3 linked regions of the Homo sapiens genome follow. The protein of the gene in region 2 purifies or fractionates together with the protein of the main gene of each other region. This does not show direct contact. Each region holds a gene or a part of one and is shown on either strand. Other genes may lie near its edges.

What was found.
Region 1: the proteins of TNFRSF8 (region 2) and SPATS2 purify together in Homo sapiens (affinity purification with mass spectrometry; 2 studies listed by BioGRID and IntAct, with this or other methods). This does not show direct contact.
Region 3: the proteins of TNFRSF8 (region 2) and NAA25 purify together in Homo sapiens (affinity purification with mass spectrometry; 2 studies listed by BioGRID and IntAct, with this or other methods). This does not show direct contact.

What each region holds. Positions count from the first base shown.
Region 1 is NC_000012.12:49,524,455-49,527,963, reverse strand, and holds the end of SPATS2 (spermatogenesis-associated serine-rich protein 2), read right to left. Parts: intron 3,283-3,509; coding exon 3,068-3,282; intron 2,021-3,067; coding exon 1,709-2,020; 3' UTR 539-1,708; downstream 1-538.
Region 2 is NC_000001.11:12,058,888-12,066,308, reverse strand, and holds the start of TNFRSF8 (tumor necrosis factor receptor superfamily member 8 isoform 1 precursor), read right to left. Parts: upstream 3,007-7,421; 5' UTR 2,711-3,006; coding exon 2,648-2,710; intron 1-2,647. UniProt on the Homo sapiens protein: Receptor for TNFSF8/CD30L. May play a role in the regulation of cellular growth and transformation of activated lymphoblasts. Regulates gene expression through activation of NF-kappa-B.
Region 3 is NC_000012.12:112,098,746-112,105,790, forward strand, and holds part of NAA25 (N-alpha-acetyltransferase 25, NatB auxiliary subunit), read right to left. Parts: intron 1-7,045. UniProt on the Homo sapiens protein: Non-catalytic subunit of the NatB complex which catalyzes acetylation of the N-terminal methionine residues of peptides beginning with Met-Asp, Met-Glu, Met-Asn and Met-Gln. May play a role in normal cell-cycle progression.

The DNA of each region.
Region 1 (3,509 bases), on a different chromosome or scaffold from region 2:
AAGCCCTGAGGCAGCTACGTTCTGCACGGCTGCCACTTACAGTCTGGGCTTCAGACTTGGGAGAACACATGCCAGAGAAAGAAAAGCTCTGCTGTGATTAAATCACAGATGCTGGGGGTGAGTGTGGGGTGGAAGGGTCTGGCACCCATGCCACCTGCTACACGCAGGAGCTCAATTATACGGTTACGTTCAATACTCAGTCAAGGGACAGGGAGTTGGGGAGAGCAGTGCCATTATAAACTTTGGTTACCTGGGAGAGCCTGGAGAGCTGTGGTTTTCTTAAAGTGGTTAAGTTCTCCTTTGGAAAGTCACCATTCCCTATCCTATGATCCTTTCTCACTAGGAACAACTGCATTTGCTCTTCCTGGCTTTCATATTTTAATTTGGTTCTGAAGCTACGCAGTGGTGGCAGACAAATGACTTGGGAATCAGATACCCTCATTTAATCCTGGAACAAGCTGTCTGAGTGACTTCTACCCCCATGAGGCCCAAAGAAAAACATAATGAAATGAAACCACTTGCTGCTATGAAACAAAAGTGGGCATATTTATGCAGTTGTTTTTATTTATTCAACTGTAAAGACTGCAGCAATTTTTTTGATGAGTAATGCCTTAGATTAACACTAATTATATTGCTATAAATTTGGTTCAGGATCAGAATAGGGTTCAGGAAAGGGAGAGAACAAAAAAAAAAGTCTCCAAACATTAAAACAGAAAAATGCTTTTTTTTTTTTTTTTGAGACTGAGTCTTGCTCTGTCTCCCAGGCTGGAGTGCAGTGGCACAATCTCAGCTCACTGCAGCCTCCGCCTCCTGGGTTCAAGCGATTCTCCTGCCTCAGCCTCCTGAGTAGCTGAGATTACAGGCACACGCCACCATGCTCAGCTAATTTTTGTATTTTTAGTACAGACAGGGTTTCACCATGTTGGCCAGGCTGGTCTTGAACTCCTGACCTAGTGATCCACCCGCCTCAGCCTCCCAAAGTGCTGGGATTACAGGCATGAGCCACAACGCCCAACCTTTTTTTTTTTAAACTTTAATTAAATGCTACTTTCTCATAGACTTCCCTAGACTGGTTTGCAATCTAAGGTAATAGGAAACAAGGCATTGGGCATTTTGAAGAAACTGCAGGTTAAGCTATGGTGCCAAGCAGAAGACTAAACACTGATTTGAGTGTCAAATCTCCAGCACATTCTGGGATAGAGGCAGGTTCTCAAATGTTTCCTAGTGTTCTTTCCTTTTCACTAATTAAATTTTCCCTTCTCTGGCGAATCCAGTGCAGTATACAACCCCCTGATTGCCTCTCTTGGTCAAATAGTTGTTAGAAGGGAACCTGTCAGGCACCTGTGGCTTCGGCTTAGATTGGAAAGGTGACAGACTAGCTCTGATTCACCTCCTCCTGAGACAGCCTGGACAGTGGAGGGATCAACTGGAAGGCCGAAACCTGGTAACAGCTGCCTCTGATTCCTGGTGGAAATGACCAACCAGATTCAATCCATATCACTGGGAAAGATCAAGGAAAAAAAATAGCTTCCCCTCCAAAAATGGTAAAGAGGAAATAAGGAGACAAGAAACCAAAAATACTTAGAATGGCACAAAAAGTGATACGCATAAACTTCTTTTTGTTATTACATCTAACTGTAAGTTTCCTAAAGTCCAGTTATCAAGTTGAATTGTGTGGATAGAGGAGAGAGGCCAACTGGATTTTCTCTCAAGAGTTCACGGCTTCAGTCTGAGAGGTCCTGGGTTTGCGCTGGGGGAGCCCCTTTTTGAATGAAGGCGTGGGAGGGCTGGGCTCCATGCTGACTCCAGTTCCATTGGTCCCTGCAGAGTGAGTCTGGCCTCTTTCAATGGTGTTTCCTGGTGCCTGAGATGGAGCACTCTGATACCTGGAACCAGATGAATACCACGAGCTGTTTCTGTAACGACCCATACTGTCATGCCGCCCTTGGTTCATGGGGTCATTGGACTTTTGGCCTTGTGGCCTATAGCCCTGTCCTCCTCGTCTGTTCCCTGGCAATACCTAAAGATGAAAGAATACAATGTTCAAGGTGCTCTAGCATTATGGTACCCCATTCGTTCACTTTACAGGAGTATTCTGAAAGCAGAATTGTGGTATCCCATGCTTGGGACTCAGTTATCTCTCAAGACTCAAAGAATTCTCTCAGCCAATCCAACCTAGCCACTACTTCAGAACTAATCCATCTTTCCCTGCTCTTCATGCCCAGGCTCTTCTCCACTGAAGAATTTACTTTTCTTTAGCTGGATGCAAGAAGAAAGATAAGGAAGAAAGAACATTCTCTGGGTTGTTACAAGCCCTCGATTGGACAAGTATATTATATTATGTCTGAACTCTGCAGATAAAAGGCCATTGGTAAAGATAATACACATTTGGAATAATAAAGTAAACATCACTATGGCCTGCTTTGCTAAATGTCATGAACTACAGATTAAAGTATGCTGCTGTGGCATTCAGCACATCTTTCGCATTATAATCCGGAAAGCTTACGGTATGGGATTTTATTTTTGTCCTCCAATTCCAAACATCATACCAGTTCTGAAGAATTACTGACAGTACTGCCTTGGATTGCTCTTGTGTTTATTCTTCAAACAGGAGAAGAACCTATGGATTACTCCTCAGCTTTCTAGTGTTTTCCCCCCATCCCCACCAGTTCACTCTCTCTTTCCCTGTAAATTCCACATTGTGCTTCTAGGGAGCTGCTGCTTTCAGATGCACACTGGTAAAACTGCCACTTGTGGTGCCTGTCTACCTTGAGATGGGTGCACGACTCCCAGTGTGACTAATTACCAGGCAATACTATCTACAACAGCAGGGATCACTGCCAACACAAGAAAGTCAGCAGTTCTTGGCAACAGGAAATCTAAACTGGCTGGCAGTTTGGAACATACGTATCTAATGCTTTCTCAGGAACTAACTTGGGTTGGAGGGATTCAAAACAGGCATGGAATGGGAATAGAGAGGAAGATAATATACTGAGCTAACAGCATTTAAGCTTTGACAATCTGGAGGGTTTTCTTCCTAACATGCTCAGTGTAGAAGCTAGGTTACCTCCCGAAGTGGCTGGTAGGGCTGGCCACTGGAGTTTGCTATGGCTGCAGGAGTCTCTCCCGGTGCAAAGTTTTTCTTGTTAGCACTTGTAAGGCTGGGAGGAGAGGCACAGGTGGAAGAGGAAGCAGCAGAGGCATCACTTGGGCTACTCAAGGACACAGATGTAACTGAGCTACATCGGGATCTGGTCGAATAGCTGTTCTTTGGATGAGACACTGAAACAGAAATATGAGGAATATATGATCATATGATAGAACAGCACAATGGATAAGGTTTCTACTTTCTCAATTTCACAATGAGCAATTTAAGATAAAGAACTGTCTATTCGAATAAAGAAAAACCTATAAAACTGGTAACAGGAAGAAAAATCTCCCTTCTGCCCTCTTCCTCCACTTCCTCCAAAGCCCCACTGCTTTGTAAAGGAATTCTTAGACAAGAGAAC
Region 2 (7,421 bases):
AAAATAACGAGCTTCCCGAACCTTTACTGGAAAAAACAGAAGTGGGAGAAGGCTTGAGGGGCAAAAAGGAGTACTGTGTTGGGCAGGTAGTCCCTTCCCCAAGGACTCCCTGACTCCTGCCAAGAAATGACCTAGTGCCTGAGCCCAGAGAGATGCTCAGCTTCCCCGGTAGGCGAGAAATGCAAATTAAGGCAACAAGGATATAACCCTTTTCACTAATCACATTGAGAAAAATTAAAATGCTGATAAGATCAAATGTCGGTTAGGATGTGGGAAAGTTACTACTCTCTTGCACTGCTAGCGGGAGGGTAAATTGTCCAGCCACCCTGGAAGGCAGTTCGGTGGTGTCTTTTAATTTGAATGCATTTTCGCCCTGCAACCTCAGTATTCTCTTCTCAGTCTCTTGTCTAGGAAAGAATCACAGACATTTATTTCCAAAAGCATCCATATAGGGCTGTGCACTGTAGTAGAGAACAAAGAAAGAAAGAAAGAACAATGGTGGCAACCTTAGCACCCATCCATCCAGGACATAAATAAACTATGAAACATCCCATTTGGCAAAAGATCACATAGCATTTTAAAAGATAGGCAGAGGATCTGTAAGTTTCAGCATGGAAAGCTCACCAAGATGCCTCATAGACATTATAAAGCCAAATGAAGAACCATATGTACTGTAGGGTATAGTATATGGAAAACTATATATATGTCTATTAAAACAATATAAATATGGACATGCATTTATAAAGGTCTGCAAAGGAAACACACCAAATCAATTATGGTGGTTATATCTTTGAAGGGATCAGGATGAGGCGGTGTCAAAAGACTTGGCTTTATCTGTAGCGTTTACAGTTTTGCTTTGAGAATATATTTATATATTCCTTGTGCAATTAAATATATAGTATTTTTATTTTAAAAAGGGTATGGGAGGCTGGGTGTGGTGGCTCATGCCTGTAACCCTAGCACTTTGGGAGGCCGAGACGGAAGGATCACTTGAGGTCAGGAGTTCGAGACCAGACTGACCAACATGGTGAAACCTCATCTTTACTAAAAATACAAAAATTAGCCGGGTGTGGTGGCACATGCCTGTAATCCCAGCTACCTGGGAGGCTGAGGCAGGAGAATCACTTGAATCCGGGAGGCAGAGGTTGCAGTGAGCCGAGATCGAGCATTGCACTCCAGCATGGGCAACAAGAGTGAGACTCAGTCTCAAAAAAAAAAAAAAAAAAAAAAGGTTTGGTATGAGAGTTCAGGCTGTAGTGAGTTATGATCGCACTCCAGCCTGGACAACAGAGTGAGACCCTGTCTCTAACATTAAAAAAAGTGGAGGGGGCTTCACTCTACAGAAAGGAAGCACATGAGCTTCAGCTGCCAAACCAAACCAGCAAAGCCCCCCAAGCACCTCTCACATCTCTTCCTTCCCTTCATCTCCCCAAGACCTTGGCACTCCAAACTCTTACCTTCCCCCAGGTGAGGGCTTGCAGAGCTGGGACAGGGTGTCTCTAGCCAGGGCTTTGTCCCCTCTGCCCTCTTGGGGGGAAAGGGGGAATACCTCACATTGCCCATTGGAAATGGAAGAGGGCATAGTTCCTCCTTTGCTGCATAGTTCCTCCCTCCTGCCTAAAGCCCACTCTGCCACTCTCCTCCCACTGCCTAAGGTTCAGATGACTAGAATTGATCCATAGCATGGAGTCCTCTCTTCCTGTAGGATTAAAGGGGAACTGGGTCTTCCCTCTCCCCCACCGTGACCCACCGCTGGACTAACAGCCTGCTCCTTCCTTTCCCTCTGTATCATTCAGCAGGCATCCACTCGCACCTACTATGGTTCTATGCAGGGGTCCACCGGGGTCCTGGGTCAGCTGAGGGCCTCTCTCTCCAGCAGCCCCTGGGCTCCGTGAAACACGCCTGGTTACTTTGCATTCTCCCCACAGTGATTAATTTGGCGCTGGCCACTGGTAAGTGCTCAGTTTTCCTAAAGCAGTCCCCAAACTCAATTCTGAGGCAACCCACCATAGACTTCAGCCCCACCACTGACCTTCTTCCAGGGGCAAATGCCCACCACGTGCTCCAGCGAATTCAATCCACAGCGTTGCTTTGCCGGACGCGGATTGGGGAAGCTAATCCCGGTGGTCCTGCACCCTCACCCCACTCTCACCCACAGCCAACTCTCCCTCCTTTCCTTGACCCTCCAGCCAGTGGCCAGCTTAGGAAGGGGGCAAACGGGACCGCGCACACAACAGGGTAGAGCGCGGACGACCAACCTCCCATGGCTAAGGGAGGCCCCATCTGGCCTGCCCACTACTCCCACGGCCTCACCTGATCTGCCCAGGACCCCGACGGGCCCGCAGGTAGGCGGGCTAAAGAGCGCCTCCCGCGTATGGCAGTGCTCTCAGTCCAATTCACACTGAATGAATGAATCAGTCCCAGCCATCGCGGGGTGAGAAGGAGGCGCCCCCCACCACTAGCCCTTCAGCCAGCCTCCCACCTGTGGGTGCTAGCATATTCCGGTGTTCCTGCTTGTCACCCGCGCCCCCTCACTCCAGCTGGGCAGGGAACGGGGTGAGGAGTGTCCTCCCTTGCGTCCCACGCACCCCACACTGTCCGGGCTCTGGACCGCCGGCACCTCCCCAGGCGCCCGTCACCCGCTTACCTGTGGGAAGGCTCGTAGCGCCCCCAGGAACAGCAGTCCCAGCGCGGCGAGGAGGACGCGCATCCCCGGGGCCGGACGTGAGGTGGCCTGGCGGCCGGCGCCCACCTGGGAAGCGGGGGAAGCGCGCGGCGCCCACGTGCGGTCCCGGCGGTTCTCAGCCGCGCGCGTGGACTTCAGGCTCCAGCACACTCCCGCCGCGGCCACCTAGTCCGCACCCAACGCACGCCGCGAAGTCACTTCAAAAGTGGTTGTTCCTCCGAGGTTTCAGCCTTAGTTCTCCCGTATCAAATTGGTTCCAGGAACACTTAGCTACAAGCAGCGAAGAAAAAAGGGGGCAAACACGTGCAGAGATGACTCAGGAAAAGGCACACTAGGAGACGCCTCCCTTAGCTGTTTGAATGGCCCGCCCCGGATTTGACGGAACTAGTGGTCCTGGCTCTAGGGAGTGTGCTGCCCGCCGCACCTGGGCTGCGGGGAGCGGAGGCAGGCAGCTTCTGGCCCTGGAGGTGGGGACTCACAGGATATTAGGAGGCCCCAAGGGGGTTCCAATGCCCCCACCTCCACTCCTGCCCCAAGAAACGGTGAAATGTGAGTAGTTTCCTGTCCCTGACACGATCAGCCAGGACCTTCTCCCATGCCCTTGAGATTCTTTGGAAGGGACAACTGGCCTAGGGAGACTGCAGAAAAAGCAACCATCACCCACCCATCCCCATTCATAAGCATTTGCTGTAAAATGAATCAGTGAGTGGATGATAAATTGGTGGATGGATGGATGGATGGATGGATGCATAGGTGGATGGATGGATGGATGGATGGATGGATGGATGGATGGATGGATGCATAAGTGGATGGATGGATGGATGGATGGATGGATGGATGGATGGATGGATGCATAGGTGGATGGATGGATGGATGGATGGATGGATGGATGGATGGATGGATGCATAAGTGGATGGATGGATGGATGGATGGATGGATGCATAAGTGGATGGATGGATGGATGGATGGATGGGTGAGCAGCAGGTGAGTGGGTAAATGGGTGGGTGGATGGGTGGATGGATGGATGCATAGATGGATGGATGGATGGATGCATAGGTGGATGGATGGATGGATGGATGGATGGATGGATGCATAAGTGGATGGATGGATGGATGGATGGATGGATGGATGGATGGATGGATGGATGCATAGGTGGATGGATGGATGGATGGATGGATGGATGGATGGATGGATGCATAAGTGGATGGATGGATGCATAAGTGGATGGATGGATGGATGGATGGATGGATGGATGGATGGATGGGTGAGCAGCAGGTGAGTGGGTAAATGGGTGGGTGGATGGGTGGATGGATGGATGCATAGATGGATGGATGGATGGATGCATAGGTGGATGGATGGATGGATGGATGAGCAGCAGGTGAGTGGGTAAATGGGTGGGTGGATTGGTAGATGGATGGACTGAATGTTGGAGGAACTGATGGATGGTATAGATCATTTTATTTCCCTGAGGCCTGACCCTTTAGAGTTTTCTTCCTGGAGGAGGCGGCTGGCACTCTCTCCTAACAGAAATGATTCAAGCCTCCTCGTACTATGTTCTCATTTGCTGGTGAATGATTTTCCCTTCCAGTGCTTCCCCATCCCCTGGGTTTTCTCTTTGCTCCTTTTATTCCACATTCCGTGTGTCTGTGTTGAGCATCTGCTGGGTGGGCCACAGGTCAAGGGTTCTTTTGACTGATTTTGTTTGGTTTTCAGATGTGAAAGCCAAGGCTCAGAAATAGGCAGGCAGTCCTAGGTGCTCTAATTAAGGGTGGGCCAGTTATTTTCCCTGAGCCCAGAATAGCCTAAGGATACTCTGGCTTCTGTGTCTACCTTGATCTGTCCTGCGAGGTACCAGGCCTCCATCAGGTGAAGGCCCTATAGGGTAGGAGTGATAACCTCCCACCAGGAACTTCCCAGCAAGGTCTCCACAACTGACCACTCCATGCTCAACCCTCCTGGGGCTGCTGGACTCCACTTGGGAAAACTGCTCCATCATGCCCCTTCCCAAGAGACCCACTTCCAGACTCTCCTCTGGATGTACCAGGCCCAGTATCTTAGGCTGTTTGAGCTGGGACTATGTTAAACAATGAGGTAAGCAATTATGGAAGTGACCTGCCTGTGATAATGACAGAACCAGACAGGGACAGGAGGAACGCAAGACACCTGCTTCCCAGTCCAGAGCTTTCTACTACAAAAGTAGAAAAGCTGGCAGCTGGGTGACATGGCTCATATCTGTAATCCCAACACTTTGGGAGGCCGAGGTTGGAGGATCACTTGAGCCCAGTTTGAGACCAGCCCGGGTAACGTAGCAAGACCTCATCTCTATTTTTTGTTTAATTAAAAAAGAGAGAGAGAGAAGGGCTGGTGTTTTGAATAAATAAATGAACAACAGCATCAAAATAGCTTGCACAAGGAGAAATACAAATAAAAATCAATTACAAGTTTTATAAGTTTAACCTTTTTAGTAATTAAAGAAATGCAAATTCAAGCAACCTTTGATAACCTTTTAGATCTATACAATCATCATTTTTTTTTTTTTGCTTTATAAAAACAATTTTGGTAAATCCAACCCCAAAGTTGTGGTGAGACCAGAATACTCATTCATACTCTGCTGGTAAATGTTACAACCCTTTTCAGAAAGCAGTATGGCAATTTTTAGCAAAAGCCAAAAAAAAAAAAAAATGTGTACTACTTGTGAGTGGCTCAGTAATTTCACCTCAGTGAAGAAAAACTAAGGAAATAATTTAACTGGAAAACTAGAAAAAGAAAAAAGAAAACTATACAGTAACATTTCCTTATATATTATTTATAAATTTTTGAAATACTCTGAGATTCACAACAAGAAATGATTACGGAAATTGTGGTACATCCATTTAATGGAATATTGCACATCCATTAAAAAGGATAAATCTATAGATGTTGTGGAAACTTGTCTCTCCCTCATATCCTTCCCTCCATGGATTTCCAAAGAGACCTTTCTAGCACACACATCTCACCAAGACACTCCCCTGTAGAGAACCCTTGCGGAAGTATGGTGTGTGTTTTGGCAGAGGACCACGTAGAAAATTATATTATTCATTTAATGATAACAATAACAGCTACCTTTGAGTGCTTATTTTGTGCTAAGAGTTTTCAGGCATTGGTTTCTTGTATCCTCATGAAAACCCCATGAACAAGGTCCTACTTTTATGCCCATTCTGCAGGAAAGGAACCCCTGCAGTGGCTCCCCTGGGTCAGAGTCACCCAAATGCAAGGGTGCACAAGTCTGCTCACAGCCTGGCAGGGGCTGACTCCTCCCTTGTGCCTTTTTACTTCTCCTGGACCTATACTCCAGCCAAATGTGCAGCCTTCTCACCCCTGCCAGCCTTTGCCCACGCTGGCCTCCACCTGGGACGCACACAGACTCCTGATCATCTTCCTAACCTGTTCCAATGCCACCTCCTCCTTGTTGCTTTCCTGGCAGTGTCTCCTGTCCCCCAGCCCTCTTCCCAGTCAAAAAGTGGTTTCTGTCATTTTTTGTGCCGCAATTCTAGATCTGATCTCATCATGTCATAACCATAATGACTGGTTCATGCATCCCTCTGCCCCAGGAAACTGTGTACTCCTGAGAACCAGAATTCCCCCAGGGCGCCCAGGAAAGTAGCTGACACATGGCTTAAGTGGAGGGAAGGCACATTTTGTGGCCAGGGAGCCAGCTGGATCCCAGGGGGAGATGGGCTGGTAGCAACCAAGGAAAACAGCCATTCATGGGACTCTTAAAAGCAGGCAGTGGATAGAGCCCCCGGGTGCCCTCGGCAGGTTTCAGGTGGTATGAAAGTGCTGTGAAGAGTAGAAGGGGAAGTCCCTAGGCTCTGTGCAAGGCACAGCAGCAGTCCTTGTTGTGGGGTCGTGGGGCCCTCCAGAGCAAGCTGTGGAAGGAAGCCAAGCCCGAGGGGCTACAGGAGACTGGGGAGCGAGGAGCGCTTGCTCACACAGTCTCAGCTCGGTGGGCTTCTTGGAGGAAAGGTGAGGAAGGTGAATGCAGTAGGAAGCCATCCAAGGGGAATTGGGAATCTGTGTCCCCAAAGTGATGCTGAGCAAGACACAAGGTCCCAACTTGGTTCAGGAAATTCAGGGACTTCCTCCAACAGCTGGGAACCCGAGTCCCAAATGGCCCCAAAATACCCTTAGCAGATAAAGGGTTCTTTCTGGCCCAGGCAGCAGCTGGCAGGTAGGAGGCTGGAAATCAGAGAGGGGAGGCTGGGGCCTTTCTTCTTCAATAGGTCCAGGTGCACCTTTTCTTTCTTTCTTTTTTTTTTTTTTTGAGATGGAGTCTCACTCTGTTGCCCAGGCTGGAGAGCAGTGGTGCAATCTCGGCTCACTACAACCTCCCCCTCCCCAGGTTCAAGCGATTCTCATGCTTAGCCTCCCGAGTAGCTGGGATTACAGGCGAGCATCACTGCACTCAGCTGATTTTTGTATTTTTAGTAGAGACAGGGTTTCACCATGTTGGCCAGACTGGTCTTGAACTCCTGACCTCAAGTGATCTGCATGCCTTGGTCTCCCAAAGTGCTGGGATTACAGGCAAGAGCCACCGCGCCCAGCCGCAGGTGCACCTTTTCTGAGCAACTTTCTTGGGAGCCTTGGTAGCAGTAGGACTCTCCATTAGGCTTCTCTGGGTCACCCTTGGCCTCCACCAGTCCTAATCGGCAGGACCCATGTCAGGCTCCCTCCAACTCACATCCCCAGATCTCCC
Region 3 (7,045 bases), on a different chromosome or scaffold from region 2:
ACAGTGAAAAAGTCAATCTCTTTCTTTCTTTTTTTTGAGACTCGCTCTGTTGCCCAGGCTAGAGTGCAGTTGCGCGATCCCAGCTCACTGCAACCTCCGCCTCCAAGGTTCAACTGGGATTGTGCTAAGATTACAGGCGTGAGCCACCACGCCTGGCCCTAATCTCTTTTCTAATACTTCCTTTACATTAAGGAGAAAGTGTCAGTTTGGTGCTAGCCTACTATTTCTCTAAAAATTGCTAGTATCTTTTTTTTTTTTTGGAGACAGAGTCTCACTCTGTCGCCAGGCTGGAGTGCAGTGGCATGATCTCGATTCACTGCAACCTCCACCTCCTAGATTAAAGCAATTCTCCTGCCTCAGCCTCCTGAGTAGCTGGGACTACAGGTGCGCACCACCACACCCAGCTAATTTTTTTTGTACTTTTAGTAGAGACGGGGTTTCACCATGTTGGCCAGGATGGTCTCAATCTCTTGACCTCGTGATCCGTCTGCCTCGGTCTCCCAAAGTGCTGGGATTATAGGCATGAGCTGTCGCACTCGGCCTTTTTTTTTTTCCAGAAGGAAGGAATAGGTCCTGAAGTTTCACAAGTATCAGAATCTGGTTAATAACATTGTTTAGTTTTCATTGTACTTTACTTTTACAGTTTTATTTTCCTACAGCAAGTGATACAAGTTTTCCACTCATAGCAATAATATAATTATAAAATAAATTTAATTTTAAAAGTCACCTTGGAGAAAAATATTAACTGATAGCACAGATAATACTATAATGCAGCTAAAATAATGAGATTAGGTAAAAGAACGATAGAAATTTGGGAAGAACTGGGATAAATCATTGGCAAGACACTATCAAAATTTGTTGAATGAACGCACAAGCTGCACTCCTGAGGTAACACTTCCCAAAGAAGCTACTAGTCCTTGGAGATGCAGGCAGCAGCAGGCCTGGACACATGCAGGCCTGCTGTCCACATGCCCTGGAGAAGAGGTCCTGGGATTTGTTCATCCAATCTTACTGAGGGATGGATACTGACAGTAGGAAAAGTATCAATTTTGCAAATAAAAAGGAAAGTTTTTCATCTGCATGTTCTTGCAGCTGCCATGAATGGTCTCCTTAGCAGCTGAAATAGTATGCTCAGTTTCCACTTCCTACAAGAATTTCAGAGACTATTAAAGATATTGCCACAACTTATAAAAACGCTAAATAGAAGAGAGCTCCATCTTTAAACACAATATCCTTTACTTAAAAATTCTAAAAGTTGGAGAATAGGAGCCTTGCTTTTACCATGAATACAAATTACAGAAGACACATTCCTTCACTCAGCAAGCCTTTGTTAAATACCTACCATGTGCAAGATTGCAAGGGACAAGGATGAACCTAAAAATGAATAATGCCTCCTAACTGACCGACCCATTCTACATTTGCCTCCTATTTATTTATGACAGAGTCTTGCTCTGTCACCAGGCTGGAGTGCAGTGGCACGATCTCGGCTCACTGCAACCTCTGCCTCCCAGGTTCAAGTGATTCTCCTGCCTCAGCCTCCTGAGCAGCTGGGACTACAGGCTCGTACCACCAGGCCTGGCTAATTTTTTTGTATTTTAGTAGAGACAGGGTTTCACCATGTTGGCCAGGATGGTCTCGATCTCCTGACCTCGTGATCCTCCTGCCTCAGCCTCCCAAAGTGCTGGGATTACAGGCGTGAGCCACCACACCTGGCCTTGCTTCCCTTTTAGTTTAAAGGTTTATTTCCCACACAGTATTCAGAGCTATCTTTTTTACATGCACACCTTATCACTCTACTCCTCTGGTTAAATCCTTTTAATGTCATCCACTGTCCTTTTCTTTCTTTTCACAGGTATTGATTCCATTGTCTTTTTTTTTTTTTTTTTTTTTTTGAGATGGAGTCTTGCTCTGTTGCCCAGGCTGGAGTGCAGTGGCTCGATCTTGGCTCGCTGCATGCTCCGCCTCCCGGGCTCACGCCATTCTCCTACCTCAGCCTCCGGAGTAGCTGGGACTACAGGCGCCCGCCATCACGCCCGGAGAATTTTTTGTATTTTTAGTGGAGACGGGGTTTCACCGTGTTACCAGGATAGTCTCGATCTCCTGACCTCGTCATCCACCTGCCTTGGCCTCCCAAAGTGCTGGGATTACAGGCGTGAGCCACCACACCCGGCCTGATTCCACTGTCTTTAAAACAAATTTCAATATCCTTAAAATGGATTACAAAGCTGAGTCGCTGCCCACCCCAGCCTCATCTCACTTCCTCACTCATTTCTTCATTCCAACTGCACAAGCCTTTGCTTACATCCTCAAGTGGACCAAGCTCCTTTTCTCAGGGTCTTCACCACCCTCTCCCCATCTCTTTGCCTAACCCTGGTTCTCTTTTCATGTCCAAAGTAAAACATCATTTCCACAGGAAACCTTTTCTTGACCTGACCCCAACAGTCCAAATGCCCCTATTGTATGCTCTCATGGCAAACTGTCCTATTCCTTCAAATCCCTTAACATAACTGTAATGGTGATGTGTACTGTCATTTCAAGGAGATAAGCTCCTTGAAAGCAGAAACTATGTCTGTGCTGTTTAGTACTCATTTCCTGCATCTATATTGTGCCTAACACATATCAGGCCCTCAATAAATGTTGAATGAAGGAATGCATAAATGAACAAATTGTATGGGGGAAAAAAGGGCAGTCTGCTAGAAAAATGAAAGATATATATATAAGATAATACAGGCCGGGTGCGGTGGCTCATGCCTGTAATCCCAACAGTTTGGGAGGCCGAGGAAGGTGGATTGCTTGAGGTCAGGAGTTCAAGACCTGCCTGACCAACATGGTGAAATCCCATCTCTACTAACAATACAAAAATTAGCCAGGTGTGGTGGCAGGTGCTTGTAATCCCAGCTACTTGGGAGGCTGAGGCAGGAGAATCACTTGAATCCAGGAGGCGGAGGTTGCAGCGAGTGGAGATCACGCCATTGCACTCCAGCCCAGGTGACAGAGTGAGACTGCATCTTAAAAAATCTATCAAAAAAAAAAGATAATACAAAGTGATCACAACAGGAAGTTCAAAGAACCAGTGATTAGTGATGGCTACCAGCTATTAAATTTTTTCCAAATCTTTTCAACTTTTTTTTTTTTTTTTGAGACAGAGTCTAGCTTTGTCACCCAGGCTGCAGTACAGTGGTGCAATCCCGGCTCACTGCATCCTCCACCTCCTGGGTTCAAGCTATTCTCCTGCCTCAGCCTCCCGAGTAGCTAGGATTACAGGCGTGCATCACCATGCCCAGCTAATTTTTTTGTATTTTTAGTAGAGATGGGTTTTCACCACGTTGGCCAGGCTGGTCTGAAACTCCTGGACTCAAGTGATCCACCCAGGAGGCGGAGGTTGCAGCAAGCTGAGATCGCACCATTGCACTCCAGCCTGGGCGACAAGAGTGAAACTCCATCTCAAAAAAATAAAATAAAATAAAAATTTAAAAAACTAGCCAGGCATGGTGGCATGTGCCTGCAGTGCCAGCTACTCCAGAGGCTGAGGCGGGAGGATCACTTGAGCTCAGGAGGTCGAAGCTGCAGTGAGCCATGTTCACATCACTGCACTGCAGCCTGGACAACACAGCAAGACCTTGTCTCCAAAAACAGAAAAAAAAAAAGAAATGTACTAATCTCTTCATCTTGCCCTATGTTTCAACAACTACCCTCTAATCTATGTATTCATCTAAGAATATTTTTGTGCACTAAAACCTTCATTTTCAGTTTAAAAGTCTAGGTCAGGGTTTTTTGTTGTTGTTGTTTGTTTGAATTATTCAGCTAAGACAGCAGAATAGTTTTTTGTTTATTTGTTTTGACATAGAATCTTGCTCTGTTGCCCAGGCTGGAGTACAGTGGCACAATCTCAGCTCACTGCAGCTTGAAGTTCCTGGGTTCAAGCATGCACCATCACACTAGCTGCCCCCCCGCCCCCCGCAATGGAGTCTCGCACTGGAGCCCAGGCTGGAGTGCAATAGCGCGATCTCGGCTCACTGCAACCTCCGCCTCCTGGGTTCACGCGATTCTCTTGCCTCAGCCTTCTGAATAGCTGGGATTACAGATGCACACTACCACACCCGGCTAATTTTTCGTATATTTTTAGTAGAGACGGAGTTTCACTATGTCGGTGAGACTCGTCTCAAACTCTTGACCTCATGATCCGCCGGCCTCGGCTTCCCAAAGTGTTAGGATTACAGGCGTGAGCCACTGCACTCAGCCCTATTTTTTATTTTTTTGAGATGAAGTCTCGCTCTGTCCCCCAGGCTGGAGTACAGTAGCACAATCTCAGCTCACTGCAGCCTCCGCCTCCCGGGTTCAAGTGATTCTTCTGCCTCAGCCTCCTGAGTAGCTGGGGTTACAGGCGCCTGCCACCACACCTGGCTAATTTTTGTATTTTTAGTAGAGATGGGGTTTTGCCATTTTGGCCAGGCTAGTCTCGAACTCCTGGCCTCAAGCAACCCACCCACCTCGGCCTCCCAAAGTGCTGGGATTACAAGCATGAGCCACCTCACCCAGCCAAACCACTGTGCCCAGCTTTGTATGCTTGTTAACACTTGGCCAAAACTGAACACAAAAATAGTCCAGAATGTCACAGGTCCAGGGCAAAAGACCAACAGGGACTGTTTTGGTTATGAGCAAGGTTTTGGTATGGCAGAGGTGGTCTCAGCCATCCAATGGTGATGGAAGTTCTAGATTCATTGAGAGAAGTTCTAGTAAGTCAGGGCTTTTTAAATGGTCATATTTTCAGAATGGAAAAAAATAGGTTGTGCCAAGTGACTTTTCTACAGAAACGCAAGATAGTCTTCACTCACCAAGGTACCCTGTCACTTCTGAGGCAAAATAGGACCAGACTCACAAAGCTACCACACTGTCCAAGAGGAGGTCAGAATAAATACCACTTTTGATTGAGGACCTGCAAGTTTTCATTTATGAACTAGAGCAGTGGTCCCCAACCTTTTTGGCACTAGGGACCGATTTCATGAAAGACAATTTTTCCACAGATGGCAGGGAGGGATGGTTTCGGGATAAAACTATTCCACCTCAGATATCAGGCATTAGTTAGAGTCTCATAAGGAGCGCCAACCTCGATTCCTCACATGCATAGTTCACAACAGGGTTTGTGTTCCTACTCCTAAGAGCTGATCTGACAGGAGGCGGGGCTCAGGCAGTAATGCTCTCCCCCACAACACCCTGCTGCTCACCTCCTACTGTGCGGCCCATTTCCTAACAGGCCACAGACCAGTATCACACACCATCCTGGGGTCAGGAACTCCTAAACTATGAACTATAGTGGAATAATTACCTGAGCCAGGCACCCAAGAGAAATGTCCTAACTCAGCAAAGAAGTGACTGTCACCCGGGAGACACACTGGAAAATATCTTACACCTGATCCAGGCTAATCCAAGACTGCAGGTCAGTACGACATATTAAAACAAGGGATCTCATGCCTGTGTATGTGTGTATATTCTAAAGACTATGCACACATTTTTTCTACTTTGAACTTTCTCTATTTCTATTATGCAATTTGCTGACCTAGCAATTCCCATATTCTATACAAATTTATTAAGTGCCATACCTGACCATCAATTCCACTTCCAATTATCTAAAAATATGAGCGTGAAATTAAAAACAAAAAAGAAAAAAAAGAAAGAAAAATAAATAAATAAAAGTATGGGGTAGAGGAGGCTGCATAACAAAACAGAGTCAAATATTTATTATCTCCCTCCATCCCTTCCCTTCCCTAATCCATAACCACTGAAAATGTTTTAAAATTAAGAATAATGGGGCCAGGTGCAGTGGCTCACGCCTGTAATCCCAGCACTTTGGGAGGCTGAGGCAAGTGGACCACATGATCAGAAGTTCAAGACCAACCTGGCCAATGTGGTGAAATCCTGTCTCTACTAAAAATACAAAAAATTAACCTGGCGTGGTGGCGGGCGCCTGTATTCCCAGCTGCTCTGGAGGCTGAGGCAGGAGAATGGCGTGAACCCGGAAGGTGGAGCTTGCAGTGAGCGGAGATCACGCCACTGCACCCCAGCCTGCAGGACAGAGTGAGACTCCATCTCAAAAAAAAAAACAAAACAAAAACAAAAACAAAAATTAGCCGGGCATGGTGGTGCATGCCTGTAACCCAGCTACTCAGGAGGCTGAGGCAGAGAACTGTTTGAACCCAGGAGGCAGAGGTTGCAGTGAGCCAAGATCGCGCCACTGCATTCCAGCCTGGGTGACAGAGCAAGACTCCTTCTTAAAAAAATAATAATAATAATGGGCAGGGCGCAGTGGCTCACGCCTGTAACCCCAGCACTTTGGGAGGCCAAGGCAGGCAGATTGCTTGAGCTCAGGAGTTCGAGACCAGCCTGAACAACATGGTGAAATGCTGTCTCTACAAAAAATACAAAAATTAGCCAGGCGTGGTGGTGCCCGCCTGCAGTCCCAGTACTCAGGAGGCTGAGGTGGATGGATGACTTGAGCCTGGGAAGTGGAGGTTACAGTGAGCCAAGACACTCCAGCCTGGGTGACAGAGCCAGATCCTGTCTCAAAAAAATAACGAAAGAAGGCACTGGGGCTTACCAAGTCACACAAGAGTACAAAATCTGCTGGGAACTACGTAGCAAAAGAGAATAATTTTAGCAAAAGGAGACCAAATAATCAAGTATGGGTTCCAGTAAGGTCATGGGTGGAGGTTTTCAAAAACGAAAAATGCAATACCCAAACTTATTAGTAATGTGAGATGCACTGGGAAGATGTTTCAAATCTATGCACACAGAAAAGCTATTCCAACCCTAGACACCACCAGTAAAATTTCAACCCACCACAATTTATCACCACATAGCCCTGTCCACATATACCCTCAATGAATTCCAGCAAGAGCTGAGGCCCCAAGCAAGGTTTCCAACACAATTGTAAAATAAATCCTGAAACCTTGGCAGTACAAATACTGTTGTACAAAGACAGTGATGCTACTGAATCTGAACTTGGTGAAGAGCTGAGCTCTCAGTGAGAATGTCTATGTTCAAATCC